2 separate regions of the Homo sapiens genome follow, and region 2 is linked to region 1. A link means that fine-mapping ties the variant in region 1 to the expression of a gene that starts in the linked region. Tissue or cell type: lung. Region 1 holds a variant in brackets; the other region holds the start of a gene. All regions are shown on one strand. Distances are from middle to middle.

Evidence for each region. PIP is the estimated chance that this variant, and not a neighbour inherited with it, causes the effect.
Region 2: it holds the start of COLQ, and the variant in region 1 is fine-mapped to the expression of COLQ in lung (TOPMed, PIP above 0.99).

The regions. Positions count from the first base shown.
Region 1 is chr3:15,687,891-15,693,041 of GRCh38, reverse strand. ANKRD28 (ankyrin repeat domain 28) reads left to right here. Exons shown (of 28, transcript NM_001349278.2): 18 at 2,822-3,023. It also overlaps a transcript of BTD not described here. Among named protein-coding and RNA genes, the nearest start is that of MIR3134, 6.9 kb to the left of the region's middle. The variant T/A (reference allele first, on the strand shown) is at 3,013.
Region 2 is chr3:15,518,972-15,524,122 of GRCh38, reverse strand. It overlaps COLQ (collagen like tail subunit of asymmetric acetylcholinesterase), which reads left to right and starts at 2,417. Exons shown (of 17, transcript NM_005677.4): 1 at 2,417-2,603. The coding sequence starts at 2,498.

The sequences.
Region 1 (5,151 bases):
GACACCTCATTTAAGTGGAATCATAACAGTATTTTTTTGTGTTGTGTGACTGGCTTATTTCATCTAGCAGGTTTCATCCATGTTGTAGCATGTGGCTGAATTTCCTTATTTTTAAGCTGAATAATTATTGTTATGTATATAGCACATTTTTCTTTATCCATTCATCTGACAATAGATGCTGGGTTGCTTTCTTCTCTTGGCTATTATGAATAAGTGCTGCTATGCCATAGGTATACTAAATAGTGTTTTTAAACTAAAAATTGAAATAATTTAGTGATTAGGCTTAATGAAATATGATTATACCACCACTTTTGCATTTCATATCTATCTCTAGGAGGTTTTCAGAAGTTACTTTAATTTCTTACACGAAACTCTCCCATTCGGGACAACTTGGTACAGTGAAAACATACTGATCTGAGGCTTAAGGAGACTGGCCTTGATTCCTAATTTTAGTCATACTGGACATTTGGACTTCTTCTCTCAGTCCCATACAAGGATATCATGGGGGGAAAAGCCCTGTGGCAAATCATCATGGCTCCCATTTATTTCTCTTGTCTTTTCATTTTTATTTTTTATTTATTTTTGCTGTTGTTTTTCATTGTCTCACTCTGTCATCCAGGCTGGAGTGTAGTGGCACAATCACGGCTCACTACAGTCTTGAATTCCTGAGCTCCAGTGAGCCTCCCTCCCTCAGCCTTCTGAGTAGCTAGGACTATAGGTGCACACCACCATTCCCGACTAATTCTTTATTTTTTTGTAGAGACAAGGTCTCACTGTTGCCCAGGCTAGTCTCAAACTCCTGGCCTCAAGTAATCCTCCTGTGTTGGCCTGCCAAAGTGCTGAGATATAGGTGTGAGTGACCATGCCCAACCTCATTTTTTTTTTTTTTTTTTTTTTATTTAGAGATACAATCTCATTCTGTCACCCAGGCTGGGTTGCAGTGGTGCATTCCCAGCTCACTGCAGCCTGTACCTCCTAGACTCAAGTGATACTTCCGCCTCAGCCTCCTGCATAGCTGGGACCACAGGCATGTGCCACCAGGTCCAGCTTATTTATTTGTTTGTTTATTTATTTTTGGCAGAGATGAGATCTCACTGTGTTGCTCAGGCTGGCCCCAAACTCCTGTTCAAATGATCCTTCCACCTCAGCCTCCCCAAAGTGCTGGGATTATAGGTGTGAGCCACCACAACTGGCTAAACTCTTCTTTTTATATTGTCTTTTATATTTAATGTATGATTCCTCAGAGTTCATTCTTTCAGTAGCATAATTTTCATTGACCTAGTATTGAGGAACAAAGTTAGATGTAATCCTAAAACAGTAGAATTCCGTGACCTACAGTCACTTTAATCTTTGAGATAGTCAAGCTTAAGTAGTCAAGTTTCTACACAGATTCATTATAAAGAGATCAGTGAGGCCCAGAGCAAGTTTATCTCTTGCTGCTACTTTCTGACATTTTCTACAAGAAATGGCATTATAGTCCTTTGAAGTTTATTTATTTCTTTATGTCCTGCTCAGCATTTAGTCCAGTGTAAATAATATATGTTCAGTTGCCATGTTGGATTTTGAAAAGACTTTTCTGGAAAGCCCTTTTATTAGACTGTATGAAGAAGGCAACTCGGGGCCGGGCGCAGTGGCTCACGCCTGTAATCCCAGCACTTTGGGAGGCCGAGGCGGGCGGATCACAAGGTCAAGAGATCGAGACCATCCTGGCCAACATGGTGAAACCCCGTTTCTACTAAAAATACAAAAATTAGCTGGGGCATGGTGGCATGCGCCTGTAATCCCAGCTACTCGGGAGACTGAGACAGGAGAATCGCTTGAACCCAGGGAGGCGGAGGTTGCAGTGAGCTGAGATTGTGCCACTGCACTCCAGCCTGGTGACAGAGTGAGACTCCGTCTCAAAAAAAAAAAAAAAAGACAACTTCAGTCTGACAAATCTTCAGTCTTACTTTTGTACAGCTAGGACAATGCCTGGTATGTGGTGATATTCAAGCAGGGCTCGGTTATGCATTTCTTTGCTAAAAGAATTACTTCTTTTTTAGCTATGGCACATTATGGGGTGGGTATGGTCAGTTTAATTTGAGAAATCCGAATATTCAAGCACTGACTCAAGTTGCTAGCTGTCTTTGCAGTTGATGTGGAGCACTGAACTGTGATTAAGAACACAGGCTTGGCTGGGCACAGTGGCTCATGCCTGTATTCCTAGCACTTTGAGAGACCAAGGTAGGAGGATGACTTGAGGCCAGGAATTTTGAGACCAGCCCGGATAGCATAGCGAGACCCTCATCACTACAAAAATTAAAAGAAAAATTAGCTGGGCATGGTGACGTGTACCTCTGGTCCCTGCTACTCAGGAGGCTGAGGTGGGAGGATCACTTAAGCCCAGAAGGTCAAGGCTGCAGTGAGCTATGATCACGCCACTGGACTCCAGCTGGGGCAACAGAGCAAGACCCTGTCTCAAAACAAAACAAAAAAAACACAGGCTTTTTAGAATCAGACTTGAAATCAAGACTTTAAATGAATCCGTGTCACACATCCATTGAATGTCTGCCGTGAGCCAAGCATTGTATACTCATGAAAAGATGACCTGTCATTTGAACTTGTATTATTTTTAGAATGCCTGTTCCCTAACACAGTAGCCTACTATGTTGATTATTAGAAAGATCTGTAGTTAACTTCCTGAATTCTCGATGTAGAAGTTTGGATTATCTCAAGTAGGATAATAATATGAAGACAAGTTTGCTTATTTACATTTATTCAAGTATTTAGGAAGTCAGTCTAAATATGTATGTTTTAAATTTACATTTTTATTTATTTCTAGGCCTATCATGGTCACCATCAAGCACTGGAAGTGTTGGTACAGTCTTTGTTAGATCTTGATGTCAGAAATAGTAGTGGAAGAACACCCCTAGATCTTGCAGCTTTTAAGGGCCATGTTGAATGTGTGGATGTACTCATTAATCAGGGAGCCTCAATCTTAGTAAAAGATTACATTTTGAAGAGGACACCTAT[T/A]CATGCAGCAGGTATGCCAGATATTATGCTTGATTTATTTATAACTTCTATCCAATACTTTTTTTCAATTTCTGATATATAATATTTCCAGTTAATTGTCTTTAAAATTTTGACCTTTTTTTTTTTCAAATCATATATGGATTATTTGACCTCACCAAATAACTTTATTCACACAAATGAATTTACAAAGCCTCCGTCATTCATAAACATTAGGAGTATCCCAGTGTTCAGGGAACTTAAATACAGTGTATTATATCAACCCAAGTAAACCAAGCACAAAAAATATTCATATAAAGTTGTTTACATGTAGGTCCTAGACTACCAGCTTCTGTGTGAAAAAGGAAATAAAAATAGATTTATTAACTAGTGTTTGAAACTAACTTTGTGCCTGGCTTAAAACCTCCCTCATGCTCCAGCCTGTCCCACACAAGTGTTTAAGAAGTCATTAAAACTGTCCTGCTCTCATGAAAAGAAGCTCCTCTGCACAAAAGATGTAAGTGCCCCCAAGTAGCTCCCTTCCTCCTGTGGCCTCTCTTGGAAAACAACCTTGGCAGCCTCCTTGCTGATACCTTCTGCAATTTTAGGGGCCCCTCAGGGGGCAGTGGCAGTGGATTCATCTTTTGATGATGGCTGCAGATGCTAACATTGGCCAATTCTATGTCACACCTACTGGTTACTCTTTGAAGGCATTTCTCCAGACAGAAGCCCCACTACCGTCAAAGCTTAGGTAGGGCAGGATCAGAGAGGCGCCTGTGTTGTTTTGAAGGTTGTGCTACAGCCTGGACTTATCTCTGGACTTCTCCCTCTAAAACCCAGTGGCCCAAAGAGCTGAAAAATGTCAGCTTGGCTCTTCAAAAGTTTCCAGACCCAAGGAGATTACCAAGAGCTACAACTGTCTGGGGAAATTTTTGACTTTAAGTGGTAAAATGATTGTATTCTCAGGGAATACCAACAACAAGACTATCATCACTTAAAACATTATCTGCCTTAGAAGTTGGGTTTATGTAATAATCTAACTTCTGAAACACTTTATCAACAAAACAATGCAGTATTTATTTCTTTCTGGTAGAAGTTATTTTGGATTGGTATAATCTTTCATTTAACAAGTGATACACGTTTTGACTTATTTTACCAGTGTACTGCATTAAACATTTATGCAGACAGGCTTTACAGAGCACTTTATGCAAGAACTATTCCATATTGTGATATTATGATGTAGCAGATACGTTAAAATACGAAGGTCTATAACCAAGTCAGTTAAATGACTTGCTACCCACTGCGTATCACTGGCAGATGCAGATTCACAACTCTCTATTTTTATAGAGTGATCCTTAAGAATACATTTGAATATATGTCTTGGATTTTTTTTCTAGTCCTTTGGGAAGCTTACATTTTAGAAGACTATTGATAACACCCACTGTTACTCCCAGAGCCGCCCTTCAAAGCTATCAGATGTTCAAGTGGGGCTGAGAAAAATATTTTAATAATACATTAGAACCTCTAATAAACATATATACACTACTATATGGTTTGAACAAGAGGTTAAAATGCATTACTTGCTGTTACCTTATTCTGAAAAAGAGTGAAGTTATATATCACTTTGCAAAGCCAAACTTGGTGGCGCATGCCTGTATTCCCACCTAACTTGGGAGGCTGAGGCAAGAGGGTCACTTGAGTTCAGTTTCATTGCACTCTAGGCAACATGATGAAACCCTGTTCCTAAAATATAAAATAAAAATCAATTTTGTACACTGGATGGGATCTGTGAAAAATAAGTACATTTTAAAAATATTAATCTATAGCTAGAAAAATTATAATTGCAGATCATATGCAGAACTAATTTAAAGCTTGCATGGAGTGGTTGCACTCTCAATAGGTAAATATTGAACTGAGACATTAGCCAGTCCCTTAGAAGTAGTTAACCAATGCCATATAGTTCAGCATAAATCCTACCCACAAAAAGAACCACAGGTTACTCTTAGTGCCTATCTATTCAATAAATGCAAGCCTTGTATCTATAGATGCCTTTCAAATTTGGAGGTCTATAGAGAGCATCTATAAGCCATGAAAAGAACACTGAGGGTTTTTTTTCCTGGAGGTTTACCAGTCATTTCCCACAGAGATGCTGTGCTTGCTGTT
Region 2 (5,151 bases), 170 kb after region 1:
GCAGGCCACCCAGCTGTATGTGCAGAGGCTCCAAGGGGTGCTGGGGAAATGCAAGTTGTGCAGAAAGCTGGAGCATAAAGTTATGCTACTTTTGTACGTTCTTCTTTTTTCATCCTACCCAGTGGTGTGATTTGATCAAAGTAACTTACATTGTTGAGGATCTGTTAGGTGACAAGGACTGTCCTGGGGGCCTTGAGAGTACATAGAGCTGTGGGATAGTCCCCTATCTTTAGGGATGTTAATGCCAGCTAAATAGCAACACAAGGTGGTGTTCAAAAACAATAGCAGCAGGTGTCACCGGTAGGACGTATTGACAGAATTTGTTCCAAGGGTATGGTCAGTGGTGAATTCTTTGTGCTGAGAGAAGGAAGAAGTCATACTGGCTTTGCAGAGGAGGAATCTGAGCTAGATAGTAAAAATTCATATTCTGACACCAAGTTACTCAAAAGATACCTTCCTCCCAGGTAGACTGTACCTTCTCCAAGCCACTGGAAGCTGGCTGCTGGGGCTCCAGGAGTTAACAAGAGTGAGCCTGAGAATGTCCTGATTGAGTTTGGCCAGCAATCACAGCTCCTTCTTGTAAAAATTTTGGGAGCAGCTAAATGGGGGTACCCTCTCTTTAATCTGTCCTATAAATTTTGAATGTAGTTCAGGTATATTTTTCATGCTTTCAAAAGCTTTCCTTATCAACTCTGTATCAGTTAGCTATTGCTGATGAGCAAGTCATCCTAAAACTTACTGGTTTGAAACAATAGCCGTTTTATTTGCTCATGACTTCGTAATCTGGGCTGGGCAGTTCTTTCGAGGGTCTCACTTGGGGTCACTCCTGTGGCTGGCATCATCTGAGACCAGGACAGGGCTAGATGTTCCAAAATGGCCTCACTCGCCTGTTGATGCTGCATCTGGGATAGTCAGAACAGCTGGAGGCTGGCTGCTTCCCCCTCCATGTGGCCTCTTCAATAGTCCAGACTTTTTAAAGTGGCAGCTGATTTTCAAGAAAAGGCAAAAGCAGGAGCTGCCAGGCCTTTTAAGGCCTAGGCCAGGAGATGGCACAGTGTCCCTTTAGCCACATTCTATTGGTCAAAGTAAGTCACAGAGCCACCTCAGATTTAAGGGAGGGGAACTAGCCCTGCTTTTTGCTGGGAAGAGTGTCATGCACACACTGGGTTGGGAGGACTTTTGGAGGCCATCTTTGCACCCAGGCTACCATGGCTCCCTTGGGTCTCCTTTGTGCTGTTCCTATGTGCAAGTTCTAATCCGTGTAGGATTCATCCCCATTACCTCACTTAACTTTCCAACAAACCTTTAAAGGGAACATTGTCTCCATTGTATGGATGAGAAAACTGAGGCTTAGAGAGGTGAGCTTGTCCACTGCCACTCAGAGCTGAGAGTCAAGCCCAAGTGTGGTGCTACAGCTGTAAAATATCACTTTATACCACGCCCTGACCCAACTCCACCTTCCCCATAATGAGCACAGGGGCAGGATGCCCACCCCAGCATCCAGTAACTAGCAGACTGTTTCTGAGTTAACTCCTATGAGGCATGTAATATGTAAATTAAAGCAAAATGAACAACTCTGTGAATTATTATTTTGTTTTAGTCATCTAATCATCTCTATAACAGGCTTTTATAAACTCATAAAAGGTATTAAGAATGTGATAATTTTTATTTGAATAATTTTGTCTAGCCAAAGATTAAGTTAGTGATGTTATTTTTCTGAATATAGTTTGATAAAAATCATTCACTTTTCTATACTTTTACTGTTTTCATTTATTTTGCCTTGCATTGAATCAAAAGGTTGCAGCTTTTGGAGAGAGAAACACTTTTTCACAGAGAAAGCTGTTTGGAAATATAAACTACTTCCTTCCTCCTTTTTATTGGATGATTAAAGAAAAAAATTAAAAGTTAACTTTACATTTGTTACACAATGGGTAAAAATGTCACAGGCTGACAGTGGAGGGGTTTTTCTCCATGAAATTCAGTTTGAATCAGGAGAGTTGTTTCTGCCCAGTTCCAAGGAGGTAGATGGTGGCACATAACCAATTAGGAATCTCTCTGCCCTTGAGGACTGCCTCCAGTGAACATCTGAGACTTGGCTGCCTTCTCATCACCTCTTCACTAGCCACTTACCTCAGTCTCCAAAAAAGAAAATTTTGACATCTTAATTTTAATGTGGGCATTTGATATGGAGCTTGAGATAAATATAACTCTCTGTAGCATGGAGACAGTTTAATGGGAAATGGTTGGCATTCTTTCTTGGTAAAGGCATGGGAGACAGGAGAGGTGGGGGAGGGAGAGAGAGGGAGGGGGTGAGGAGGAGGGAGAGGGAAAGAGAAAGAGGGAAAGACACACACACACACAGACACACACACACACGCACACACACACACACAAACACACGCGCACGCAAACAGCAGTGAGGAAGAGAAAAGCAGAGATAAGCAAGGCTCCGCAGCAGCCTCCTTTCTAACTTGACCCTCGCCAGACCCTGGCCAGCATGGTTGTCCTGAATCCAATGACTTTGGGAATTTATCTTCAGCTTTTCTTCCTCTCTATCGTGTCTCAGCCGACTTTCATCAACAGCGTTCTTCCAATCTCAGCAGGTAAATGATGGCCACAACTTTCCTCTCTTCCATCTGTCAGGGGACAGGGGGAGGAAGGAAGATTGTTTTGCAATGTGTCCTGATGTTTTTGCCATTCAACTGTTGGTGGAGGGAGGTTGGAAGGAAGACGGCCACCCCAGCAGCTTCCTGTCACCCGAGCTTGTCTCGGAAGCCCCTTCTGTCCTTGTTCCAACCGGCTCCTACCTGGCTGCTCAAAGCAGAGACACTTTGAAAAATGGTTTCTGCCTCCCCTATTCTCCCCATTTGCTGCATGATTTCATCTTGGTCAGGAATTTGGGAGAGCTTAAAAGAGACAGAGGTGTGCAAGTAATAGAGAAGTGAGTCTCAGATGTTTCTATAAATACATCTCTGACCTCTTCGAAGGGGGCTTGCCTCACAGGGGCTGTTGTGGAGTAAACAAACCTCTTTCCAGACCCAGATAGCATCCATGGCCACAATAGTCCCTCGAAGGGAAAATGCAGGTGGCAGGGGCCGGTGGGGTGGGGGGTGAACAGCGGCGGGGCAGTTGCAGCCTCAGGACTAGGTTTTCCCTTTCTCCAGACCTGTCTTCCTGGGTGCGACTTCCCTTCAGCCTCAGACAAGGCAGCTGGAGGTCCTGAGAGAAGTGAGCTTTCCAGGGAGAAGTGGAGGGGGTTCCACAGTGACAGCCAGGTCTGGAGCTGAGTGTGTCTGCCGGGTATGAGGCTGGGAGATTTGGGGAAGGGGCTGTGTCTGCCAGCCTGCAACCTTTTCTGAGGTCAGCAGCCTGTTGCCCTTGTCTTGTCTGACCCAGAGCAGGGGAAGTATTCGGTTACTAGTATGGCCTATTTAAACCTTTCTGAGGAAACTCAAATGTTTCCGGAGGGCTTGAAGGAGGCAGGCAGACCCTCACAGCCCCCCTCAATTCACCTCAGTGACCCCTGACTCTCCCCAGCAAAGTTTTAGTTATGCCTCCAACATGAGTCTCATAAATACTTCAACTGAGACAGAAATTTCACTATCGCTGCCTTTGCTGGAAACACAGGGAGGGCCAGAAATGCCAGGCTCTCAGAGAGGGCACATCTCTGAATCCAGCTCCCAACTGCTGTCCATTGATAAAAACAGCTCATCAGCAAGTTGTGTAGCCAACGTTTGTGGGCCATGAGGGAGTGACTCAGAGACTGGTGTGAGGCTAATTATAAAAGTGTGAGAAACAGAAGGAGGTGGGGGCAGATTTGTGGAGAATTCAGGAGGGTGGGCAGGAAAGGTGAGTGGTGGTGTCACCGTGGGTGTGTGCCCACATGCCCCTGCAAATTCAAGTTAAGAGCATCAAGCTTCTTCTAGGAGTGAGTAGTCATTATTCATTCCCCAGTTCAAGGGAGAAGCTTGAGAGTTAATTTGGCCTAATTTGGTGGTTCTTAATCATGTTTGGGTCATGGATTCCTTTGAGAATCTGCTGAAGGTTAGGACTTAAGGAAACTCAGTTTTCTGGTTCTAGCCCTGCCTCTGATGAGCTCCCTGACTTCTGAGAGACAGTGGCCTTACACTATAAGCACCATGTGGCCAGGGCATGTGTCTCTCTTGTACTTTACTGTTTTCCCAGGGTCAGAACAGTGCCTGGCACATAGTAATCAATAAATATTTGATGAATGAATGAATAAAAGCTTCTCATCTGCAAACTGGGGTTTACCATCATTTTGTATTACTTAATTTAAATAGCACCAAAGTGGTTAAGGAGTTCAGAAAACTAGAGAGAAAAGAACCTCTGGTTTTCTTTTGAACTCTTTGCCTTGGAGAGCACCCTGGCACAACATAGATATCTCTTAGGTAAGCTTTTTGCAGACTGTACCAATCAGGGCAACAGCAGGATAAAGAAGCAACTCAGGTGGTTCAGATGAAAAGATCTGAATGAAGGGATCACTTTGAGAGGTGTGGGCGGGGTTAAGGGAACCAACAAGGAATGCTGAGGCACCTAGAGATTAGCAACTGCAATATGCCTTTACCACCCTGTGCTTGAAAAGGCAAGAGGGGCAAATAGGAAAATGGATCCCAGGCAGATTTGGAGCCTTAGAGAAGGGGCCATTAAGCAAGAGCATTGGTCATGGAAGGCCCTAAAGCAGGGAGAAAGTGAAGGAGAAGTACACCATCTTCTCTCTCCTCCCATCCAAGCACCTTTTGGCAGCGCCTCTCATTGGCCAACCCAACTTGAAGCCAGAGGGCAGAGCCTGGAGGTCAGGGACTGGAACACTGAGGGCAGAGAGCCAAGGGGAGGGTTGGGATGGAGAACAACCAGTGCGCACATCCACAGGCACTTCTGGCTGGGAATGTGGTCATTAGACATTAGGGAAAACAATGGAATAGACCTAGCGGGAATCACTAAGGTAACCAGCTCAGTATCACAAAGATATGTTTTCTCCGGTGGTCACTTGGCTTTGCCCCCCTAATTTAGTCACCATGGCTTTATGATAGCACAGTTCAGAAATAAACTTAAGCTTTAAAAAAATGGAAGCTGTTCCTTGTAATCCTTTGGAAATATTTTCCAACAGTTTGATATAAAATATTCTATATT